Homo sapiens: one gene and its partners. The protein of the gene in region 1 purifies or fractionates together with the protein of each later gene. This does not show direct contact. Each region holds a gene or a part of one and is shown in the gene's direction. Other genes may lie near its edges. The genes, in order: HNF1A, IGFBP7 and RHPN2.

What was found.
Region 2: the proteins of HNF1A (region 1) and IGFBP7 purify together in Homo sapiens (affinity purification with mass spectrometry, with the first as the bait; one study listed by BioGRID). This does not show direct contact.
Region 3: the proteins of HNF1A (region 1) and RHPN2 purify together in Homo sapiens (affinity purification with mass spectrometry; one large-scale study listed by BioGRID and IntAct). This does not show direct contact.

The regions. Positions count from the first base shown.
Region 1 is NC_000012.12:120,995,400-120,999,050, forward strand, and holds part of HNF1A (hepatocyte nuclear factor 1-alpha), read left to right. Parts: intron 1-862; coding exon 863-1,014; intron 1,015-1,141; coding exon 1,142-1,343; intron 1,344-2,074; coding exon 2,075-2,266; intron 2,267-3,651. UniProt on the Homo sapiens protein: Transcriptional activator that regulates the tissue specific expression of multiple genes, especially in pancreatic islet cells and in liver. Binds to the inverted palindrome 5'-GTTAATNATTAAC-3'.
Region 2 is NC_000004.12:57,100,358-57,104,008, reverse strand, and holds part of IGFBP7 (insulin-like growth factor-binding protein 7 isoform 1 precursor), read left to right. Parts: intron 1-3,651. UniProt on the Homo sapiens protein: Binds IGF1 and IGF2 with a relatively low affinity. Stimulates prostacyclin (PGI2) production. Stimulates cell adhesion. Acts as a ligand for CD93 to play a role in angiogenesis.
Region 3 is NC_000019.10:33,002,347-33,005,997, reverse strand, and holds part of RHPN2 (rhophilin-2), read left to right. Parts: intron 1-2,997; coding exon 2,998-3,185; intron 3,186-3,594; coding exon 3,595-3,651. UniProt on the Homo sapiens protein: Binds specifically to GTP-Rho. May function in a Rho pathway to limit stress fiber formation and/or increase the turnover of F-actin structures in the absence of high levels of RhoA activity.

The DNA.
Region 1 (3,651 bases):
CTCTACCCACTCTTCTCTCCACTCCTCTCCACTACATACCATTTTATTCTATCTGTCCCATCCACTCAACTCCATTCACTCCACATGACTCCACATTTCATCCATTCCACTCTACTTCATCCACTCACTCCACTCTATACCATTCCACTCCACTCTATTCACATACTCCACCATTCCAGTCTACTCCATTCACTCCACTCCAACCCACTCACTCCACTCCATACCATTCCACTCCACTGTGTTCACACAACTCCATCCATTCCACTCTAGCCACTCCATTCATTCCACTCCACGCCACACTATTCCTCACCATTCCATCCACTCCACCCTATACCATTCCACTCCACTCTATTCCTCCCCACCCGTCCTCTCCACCCTTTACCACTCCACTCGACTGTACCCATTCCACTTGATCCCACTCATTCCACTCAATTCCATCTACTCTACTCCACACCATCCACTCCACTTCATATCATTCCACTCAACTCAACCTAAGTTGATTTGGGTTAATTCAATTCAATTCATTCATTTCAGATTGTATCAATTCAATTCATTTCAATTCAACTAAATTCAGTTAAATTCAGTTCAGTTGTCTTCTACTGAGCACCTACTGCATGTCAGGTATAGCACTAGGCAGTGGGAGGAATGGAGCTAATAAATGCAGTCCCAGCCTTCAAGGAACTGGGAGCAGCTGACCCAGGGCTTGGCAAAAGGTAGAAACAAAGGCAGATTTGCTGGCTGCATAAAGGCAGACAGGCAGCTGGCCTAAGCAAACCAATGGAGTTTGAAGTGCTGAGGGCTGTGGAGGCAGGGGAGGGCAGGGAAGTGGGGTGCTGAGGCAGGACACTGCTTCCCTCTCCAGGTGTGCGCTATGGACAGCCTGCGACCAGTGAGACTGCAGAAGTACCCTCAAGCAGCGGCGGTCCCTTAGTGACAGTGTCTACACCCCTCCACCAAGTGTCCCCCACGGGCCTGGAGCCCAGCCACAGCCTGCTGAGTACAGAAGCCAAGCTGGTGAGTGTCCTTGCTTGTAAGGAAAACCCAACCTCATCTTTCCTTGGCAGGGAGATTCTGGAGCAGTCCCTAGGGAGGCCCTGTGGGGACCCCGGCCCCCCGGACACAGCTTGGCTTCCCCTCGTAGGTCTCAGCAGCTGGGGGCCCCCTCCCCCCTGTCAGCACCCTGACAGCACTGCACAGCTTGGAGCAGACATCCCCAGGCCTCAACCAGCAGCCCCAGAACCTCATCATGGCCTCACTTCCTGGGGTCATGACCATCGGGCCTGGTGAGCCTGCCTCCCTGGGTCCTACGTTCACCAACACAGGTGCCTCCACCCTGGTCATCGGTAAGCTGGTGGGGATGGGTGGGCACCTGGGTGGGAGGCTCATGGGGCAACCGCAGAATCCAGGAGCTGGAAGAGCCACTGGGACTCATTCATTCATTCATACAACATGTATTTATCCAGTGCCTACTCTGGACCAGTCACTGTGCTACATCAGTGATACCTGGGTGAACCAAACAGACCAAAATCTCAGCAACTCAAGCAGGGAGGCAGGCACTAAGCATAATACATCAATTCTGTGGTACCTCAGAAGGTGAAGGGTCTATGGGCAAATTACAGCAGGGTAAGGGGGACTGATGTTTTCTAAGTTTTTGTTTTATGAAGAAAAATTAAGCCCAGAAAGCCCTTATTTGCAGGTACAATTATGCAGAAGCCCAGTACATAAGATAGATAAGGAGCTGCTAGGAGAGGGGAGCAGAGAACTGACCCCATGGCCTTTGCACTGCTGTGGAACCCCAGGGCTCCAGGGAACCGCAGTTTGACAACTTTTGAACAAGTCACCGCCTGCCTCTCCCACTAGCCTAGACAAAGAGCTAAAGGCTCAGAGAGGGGGAATGACTTGCCAGAGCCACTTAAATTAGTGGCAGGTCCCAGTGGAGGGCTGTTTCCTGACCACCCTGCCCCCTCCTCCAAACCACGGGCTCTGGGAAGGAGAGGTGGTGCCCTTGGGAGGTCTTGGGCAGGGGTGGGATATAACTGGGGGGCCCAGCTGATTCCCTCCCCTTCCACTCCAGGCCTGGCCTCCACGCAGGCACAGAGTGTGCCGGTCATCAACAGCATGGGCAGCAGCCTGACCACCCTGCAGCCCGTCCAGTTCTCCCAGCCGCTGCACCCCTCCTACCAGCAGCCGCTCATGCCACCTGTGCAGAGCCATGTGACCCAGAGCCCCTTCATGGCCACCATGGCTCAGCTGCAGAGCCCCCACGGTGAGCGCCCTGTGCCCCACACAGCAGGAGATGATGATAGAGGTTGGCTGTCAATGGATGCAGGGGAAAGGGGTGCCTGGCAGGCATTGCAGTCTGCATGTGTCTCTGGGACAAGTGTGTTTCCGTGATTGAGGGTGTCTGCAGGCCAGTGTGTTCCCATGTGAATGCACGTATCTGTGTGTGTGCACGACTGCTTGTGTGAGCAGATCCCTAGTGCGTGTCTGGGTGTGTATCGGTTGTGCATGCATTTGTGTGCATGCCTGTGTTTCTCTGAAACTCTTAGGGCCATATGAATTTCTAAAATCTATTCAGATTTTAGAAAGGTAATCTGGGGCCAGGCGTGGTGGCTCATGCCTGTAATCCCAGCACTTTGGAAGGCCGAGGTGGGCAGATCACTTGAGGTCAGGAGTTCAAGACCAGCCTGGCCAACACGGTGAAACCCCGTCTCTACTAAAAGTACAAAAATTAGCCAGGCGTGGAGGCACGTGCCTGTAGTCCCAGCTACTTGGGAGGCTGAGGCAGAATCGCTTGAACCTGGGAGGCGGAGGTTGCAGTGAGCTGAGATTGTGCCACTGCACTGCACTCCAGCCTGGGCAACAGAGTGAGTACTCTGCCAAAAAAAAAAAAAAGAAAAAGAAAAGTAATTTGGTGGATATGCCAGCTATCACATAACACTCCCAGCAGGGTTTGAGACAGCCCCCTGTGATCAAAGCACTGCTATTTCTGCAGCCAAAGATAGGATTTCCACAAGGCAGTTTAAACACTCATAACCTCATACCAGGTTCAGGCTGGGTTTCGCCACCAAATGAGCTCTAGTGCCAATCTTAAGGAAATCTTTTGGTTTCAGACCTTTTTGGAATTTGGGACTGGGTTAAGAGATTTGGGGCCTGTGTATGTCTGTGTGTACATGGTTGAGAGTGTATGCGTGTGTGTGTGTTACATTTTTATCTGAGTCACTGTGAGAATATGTGGTTTATGTGCGTTTTCCTAGTGTCTGTGTGTCTCTTGTAGGGTCTATGTGTCTCCTGAGGGGTGGGTGGAGGTGCTGTAGGCAAAACATGGGGTTATATTTGGAAAGGTGGCCTGGAGATGGAAGTACTGCTGTCCTCTGCCTTGCTCTTTGACAGGGGCCACCTGAACTTACTACACAGCACCTGAGTTTAGTACAGTAGCACCTGTGCTTAGTACATAGCACCTGTGTTTAGTATAGTAGCACCTGTGCTTAGTACATAGCGCCTGCATTTAGTACAGTAGCACCTGCGCTTAGTACGTAGCACCCGTGCTTAGTACAGTAGCCCTGCACCTGCACCTCCCGTTCCCTTTCATACCTGCTGTCTCCAGGTGACAAGAGGAGCTGGAGTTGGTTTCTGGCCTCCTCCAGGCTC
Region 2 (3,651 bases), on another chromosome or scaffold:
AGGGGACAGGATTGGCAAGATGTTGGTCAAAGGACACACAAGTTTGGTTAGAGAGGAGACATAAGCTCAAGAGATCTATTGTCCCTCATGATGACTATAATTAATAACAATATATTATATACCTGAAAATTGCCAGCCTGGGCAACATAGTGAGACCTCGTCTCTATAAAAAAAATAAAAAAATTAGCTGGGTGTGGTGGCACACACCTGTAGTCCCAGCTACTTGGTAGGCTGAGGCGGGAGGATTACTTGAGCCCAGGAGGTCAAATCTGCAGTGAGCCATGATCATACCACTGCACTCCAGCCTGGGTAACAGGGCAAGACCCTGCCTCAAAAAAAAAAAAAAAAGAAAAGAAAAAAAAAAAAGAAAAGTTCTAAGATCATAGACTTTAAATGTTGTTACCACACACACAAAAAAGTGTATGAGGTAATGCATATGTTAAATAGCCTGATTTAGCCATTCCAAAATGTCTACATGCATCAGAACATCATGTTGTATACCATATATATACAATTTTCAGTTATCAGTTAAAACAATTTTTTAAGAGAAAGGAGATAACCAGAGCATAGCCAGCAGAAGGACTCGCATGAGGTTTGGTGGGACTGCCTAGGGAGAAGGAGGCAGCTGGCTGCGTGACAGAGCCCAGTGATAGGGGAGGGCCTGTGACCCCTTAAGGAGCTGAGACGCTGTCACAGAGCAATGGGAGCGCTGAGTGATGGAGCTGGATTTGTGCTTTTAGAAAAGCTTTGTTGGCTGCTGTTGGGAGAATGGATTGGAAGGGGGTGAGACTGCAGTCAGAGACTCCCATAAGGAAGCTGTTACTGTAATCACAACAACAGATGCCTACACTCCTTCCCAAGACTTCCCTCTCTGATCTTAGAAGCATTGTCAAATCTGGGTTCCCAGCCTGCCATGGCAAGCTGCTTGCTACTTGGGAGTGAAAAGCCCTTGTGGAGCTTTTTCTTATTCGGTGACTGCTCATAAAGTGCCTTCACCTCGCTTGCCTTATTAGCCAGTCCTGCCTCCAAATTACCACCACTTGCTCCTTTCAGGAGTCTCTTCCCCCTAAAGTCCCTATTACTCCTTCTCTCTGCTTTCAGATCAGAAACAGAAAAAGTCACCTTCCCTAAGAGTCTGCTCCAGTCCAGTAGAAATGCTTTAAAATTTTTCTGGCCTCAGCTGCCCTTCTTGAGCACAGAAATTTCTAGAATATTGAATGAATCACTGGTTCTTTATAATCATTTTGTCCAGTTTCAATCACTGCATTTTAGGAAAGATTTGAAAAACTGAAGGACAAAGTGGGGCCTTAGAGGACTTAGGATTCTTTCAGAGGAAAGTAATCTAAAGAACAAGTTAATGTTTCTTCATCGTTTGGGAATTAGTTATTAAATGGAAGATGCCTGAAAAATTATTCTCTTAATACAGTTCTTCAGGAGGACAGCATTAAAAGGCCTGGAATTAAATAGCCACAAGGCACATTTAGATGACACAGCAGGAAGAACTTTCCAGTAAAAACTATTGAATAGGATACCGTGTTCAGGCAGAAGTCAGGAGACTCTCTTTAGGAGAGCTGAGAAATAACTTGAGGGGGAGGGGCCACATCTGGGGGAGGATTTTATAATTTTTAAATCTCTTAAACTATACAGCTTTGAGATGGAATGATTAAGCTGAGCAGGCATTTGTTAACATCCTGAAATACGATTTCCATCCTGTCCCTAGAGCCTGCCCTCGGGGTCCACTGTAGACTGGCCTTCTAGAAGAAACCGCCTTATAAGGCTCTCTTGGATAGTTCAGTGACAGAACACCCTTGGATGGAGTCCAAGGCCAGCTAGCCTTCACTGATTCAAAATTCCTCCCTACAGTGGATGAGATTATGATGCTTCCTTTACCTCAAGCCACCCCTACCCCACAAACAATCTGACCTCATCTGTGTTTTTCATTGTTAGACAAATAACATCTTGTTTTTAGCAGCTGGGGAACCCTGAATTATCGTCAAAAAAATTTTTAAGCCAGGGAATATGAGTGTAACCTTTATTTGAAATTTAGGAGTGGCACAATTAGAAAGCTTTGAAATGGAAGGAGACTTAGGTATATGTGAATTAATAAGCCCACTTATTTAAGGTAATTTCAAAGATTTCCCAGTGAGTCTTTTACTCTTATGTGGGGATAGCAGTGGAGGACTAGAAATGTTCAAGGGAAGCTTCCCCCAGCCTGTCATATATGGCTTTTCCAGGTCAATCAAGACCGTCTCCTCCACCAGGCCTCTGAGAGAAAATGAGATCAGAAGAAAAAAGCCAGGATGATAATGGGGGGAGGGGGGGAAACGTTTACTTATTTATTTTTTTTACTTAAAATTGATTGTGTTAAATAGTTGACCTCTGTTTTATCCCAAGTTGGATTAATGGCAAAATGATATGGCCCTTTTGAAAAAGCTAATGTGTTGAATTGCCTTTACTGTTTTACAGAGGAGAGCAGTCAAAGTTAATTAGAAACAGCTGGAGCTAACAGTAAGCCTCACCCCCATCAATGTCCCTACCAGGAGAGGGTTACCAGGGAGAGGAGCAGTCCCGGGAATCCAGGGAGGGGCCTCTGGTCCCAAAAGCAGGCCAGAGTTGCAGAGAAGTTTTGTGTCTGAAAAATAAGAAAGGTTCATTTCAGGTGAAACAGACCTAGGAACCCTGTGTTGACAAAGCCCCATTCATATGATATGAAGTTCCCACAGTAAAGAGCACTGACAAGGCCAAGGCCAACCCGACAGGTTCAAAGCAGGCTTGGCCACTGTGAAAAAACAACCCCCTCAAAACTTCAGGAGAATGTATATAATAAATGAAGGTACAATTTCATACCTTCACAGGATTATTGAGAAGGTCAAATTACATAACAGATATGAAAGCACTGTGTAAACTATGCGGACTATGCTGCACCAAATAACTGTAAAGAATTATTAACTAGACTGTAAATGCCTTGAGGGCAAGGAATGCATCTGCAACGGGTATTTGTGAAGTACTTGACAGTTTGCTAAGGACTTCTGTGGATTTTCCTCATATGCTACTCATAACAACCCTGGAAGGTAAGGGGAATTGTTATCCCAAATTCCAAATAAAGACACTGCAGGTCAGACATCACACAGGTGGTAAATAGCAATTCTGGTACTTACTTTAGATATTCTGCTACAGGCTTGCTATTCAAAGTGTGGTATGTAGACCAGCAACATTGACTCTCTGTGCTATCTTTCTTTTTTATAAACTCGGAATTATTTCAAAATAAGAAGTTTCTAACAAAAGAGATTCAGAAGAGTCAAACCCTTGGGTGTGAAAAAGTTTTAGGAAGACTTTCCTGAATTTATTTTGCCTATATTTTGTTTCTGTTGAATGAGCAAGGGGGTTATATGATATATTTGTGTCTAAATACATCTAAAAGAGCTCTTTCATTCGCATAAAATAAACATGCTGTATGATAACAAAGTTTATGTCAGAGTTGAGATGGCTCTTTATGGTACATATATGCTGTGCCTTCTAAAAAATGTCATATTATATTCAGTGAAAGATGATGTTTCTTAAAATGAATGAATGTCTCTGAGGTGGCTAACATTAGTCCTTCTATAGCCAGATTAGCAATCTTAGAGCCTGGTCAGGCACAGTGGCTCTTGT
Region 3 (3,651 bases), on another chromosome or scaffold:
TGAGACAGAAGGATCAGCCGAGGTTGTGGTAAGCCAAGATCGCGCCATTGCACTCCAGCTTGGGCGACAGAGCAAGACCCTGTCCCAAAAAATAATTAATTAATTAAAAAAATAAAAGATTGGTCTATCGGGATGAAGCGATATGCTAAGATTCCAAGTATGAGTTGATTTCTTTTGCTGTAAATCTTTTTTCTGGACTCATCTTTCTGAGGAATCTTAGGCAGGCACTCTGTGTCCTGTCTCTGAGATTATATCAATGGAGACAAACTATAGACGAAATGAAGCAAGTAGGAGAACAGTGGGGAGTGTGAGGGAACCCCCATGGAGCTCGCAGCTCAAAACAGCAGGTGCCATCCCTCCGCAGGGCAGGGCTTTTTTTTTTTTTTTTTTGCTCAGCAACAAAACCAGAGGAACCAGTTGGATGGGATTCATATGAGAGATTCTATTTCAGTTCCAGATTGATTGTCAGTTAGCGCTTTGGACAGTTAATTTTCTAAACTACAAAGAAGTCAGAGGAAGGCTGCAGCATGAAAATTTCCATTGGAGCAGACGGATTGAGATTTTTTTTTTTTTTTTTTTTTTTTTGAGACAGAATCTCACTCTGTCGCCCAGGCTGGAGTGCAGTGGCGAGATCTCGGCTCACTGCAGCCTCTGCTTCCCGGGTTCAAGTGATTCTCCTGCCTCAGCCTCCGGAGTAGCTGGGATTATAGGCGTGCACCACCACACCTGGCTAATTTTGTATTTTTGGTAGAGATGGGCTTTTGCCATGTTGGCCAGGCTGGTCTTGAACTCCTGACCTCAGGTGATCCGCCCACCTCGGCCTCCCAAAGTGCTGGGATTAGAGGCATGAGCCACCACGCCTGGCCAGAATAGATCTTTCTTGAGGTCCAGGGGAAAAGCCCTGGACTGCTGAATGACTCAGATCTTATGTGTGAGCCTGGTCCCCTGTGAGCCCCTTAGTCCTTCTGCCTGCCGTCTGCTTGCATCTCCATACCTGTCGTGATGGAATTTTGTCCCAGGTGACACAGGAGTTGTGGGGAGCAGGCTGGTTTCTTTACTCAATAGAGATGTGTTTTGGAAGGTAATCCAATTTTTAAAAATTGGGTTAAAAGGCTGGGTGGGGTGGCTCACGCCTGTTATCCCAGCACTTTCAGTGGCCGAGGCAGGCAGATCACCTGAGGTCAGGAGTTCGAGACCAGCCTGGCCAACATGGTGAAACCCCGTCTGTACTAAAAATACAAAAATTAGCTGGGTGTGGTGGTGGACACCTGTAATCCCTGCTACTTGGGAGGCTGAGGCAGGAGGATCGCTTGAACCTGGGAGGCAGAGGTTGCAGTGAACTGAAATCACACCACTGCACTCCAGCCTGGGTGTTTATTTATAAATAAATAAATAAATAGTGTTAAAATATACATATATAACTTAAAATGTACTATTTTAACCAGTTTTTTTATTATAGTAAAATAACACAGAACATAAAATTACCATTTTAATTATTATCTTAAATTTTAAAAATTTTAAAATTATCCTGCCAACCAGAAGCACATTTTAACCATTTTTAAGTGTGCAGTTCAATGGCATTAAGTGCATTTGTACATTCATAGTGTTGTGCAGCCATTACCACTAAACATCTCCAGAAGTTAAAAACTTTTTTTGTTGGTTAGGCAAGGTGGCTCACACCTGTAATCTCAGCACTTTGGGAGGCTGAGTCAGGAGGATCACTTGAATCCAAGAGTGGAGACCAGTCTGAGCAACATAGGGACACCCCATCTGTACAAAAAATTTTAAAATTAGCTTGGTGTAGGGTGGCACATGGCTGTAGTCCCAGCTCTTCAGGAGACTGAGGTGGGAGGACCGCTTGAGCCCAGGAGTTTGAGGCTGCAGTGAGCCATGATTGTGCCACCGCACTCCAGTCTGGGCAACAGAGTGTGATCTTGTCTCAAAAATAAATAAAATAAATACATTTTTAAAAAGTATATATTTTTTAAGAGACAGGGGTCTCAGTACGTTGCCCAGGCTGGTCTTGAACTCTTAATGTCAAGCAACCCTCCCACCTCAGCCTCCTTTATAGCTGGGATTACAGGCAGCAGCCCCTGTGCCCAGCTATCTCCGGAACTTTTTCATCATCCAAAGCAAAGCTCTGTACTCAGTTAAACAATAACTTCCCATTGCCCGCTTTTCCAGCCCCAGCTAACCTCTATTCTCCTTTCTATTTCTGTGAATTTGACTATTCCGGGTACCTTATCTAAATGGAATCCTACAATATTGGTCCTTTTGTGACTGGCTTGTTTCACTTAGCATAATGTCCTTATTTACACTGTACCATGTGTCAGAATTTCATTCCTTTTTAAGGCTGAAAAATATTCTGTTGTATGGATAGGCCACATTGTGTTTAATCATTCATCTGCTCATGGACGTCTGGGTGGTTTCCACTTTTCAGCTCTTGTGAATAATGTTGCTATTAACACGGGTGTTCAAGTGTCATTTAAGCCCCCACTTTCAATTGTTTGGGGATATATATCATAGGAGTGGAATTGCTGGACCATATAATTGAGAATCAAATTTTTTAATATGTTGTAGGACACCGGTTCTTTTTTTTTTCTCCTGTCTTTTCCTTTTTTTTTTTTTTTTTTTTTTTTTGAGACAGAGTCTTGCTCTGTCACCCAGGCTGGAGTGCAGTAGTGAGATCTCAGCTCACTGCAACCTCTGCCTCCTGGGCTCAAGCAATCCTCCTGCCTCAGCCTCCAGAGGAGCTGAGACTATAGTCGCACACCATCACACCCGGCTAATTTTTGTATTTTTTGTAGAGACAGGGTTTCACCACGTTGCCCACGCTGGTCTTGAATTCCTGATACAAGTGATCTGCTCACTTCGGCCTCCCAAAGTGTTGGGATTATGGGCATGAGCCACCGCACTCGGCCTCCTATCTTTCTCTATAGCAACGTGATGAAGTAAATATGAACCCGAACTAATGGGCAAAACATTTTCCACTTTTAGGGGTTTTAAATTACCTGAAAGACACATTTACCCATACTCCAAGTTACGACATGAGCCCTGCCATGCTCAGCGTGCTCGTCAAAATGATGCTTGCACAAGCCCAAGAAAGCGTGTTTGAGAAAATCAGCCTTCCTGGGATCCGGAATGAATTCTTCATGCTGGTGAAGGTGGCTCAGGAGGCTGCTAAGGTAGGACTCCCTGGTTCCTGTGACTTTGGGGAGTGGGCAGGAGATGCTGGCACAGGAGCACTGGAAGTAGCGGGGCCTTCCCATGGGAGCTTGCCTGTGACCTGGGCATTGTGCCAGCTCCGGCCAGTACTGCTGGCTTGAGTTTTCTTGGCAAGTGTTGGTGTTTCAGATACAGATCACTGATTCCATCTGCAGCTTAACCTAAAAACCAGCATAATGACAGCAGCCTGATCCCCCTGTTAACTGTGACAATGACAGAACGAGGGGTCTCTTGGAGTTGCTCCCAGATTCTGGAGCAGCCCCTGGCAGGGGCTGTTGCATGGGAAGAAGAAAGGGCTCTTTCTCTGCAAATGGGTTCATGAGGGCCCTTGTGCCGGGCTGCCCCTTCCCAGTGTCCCTTCTATTTCAGGTGGGAGAGGTCTACCAACAGCTACACGCAGCCATGAGCCAGGCGCCGGTGAAAGAG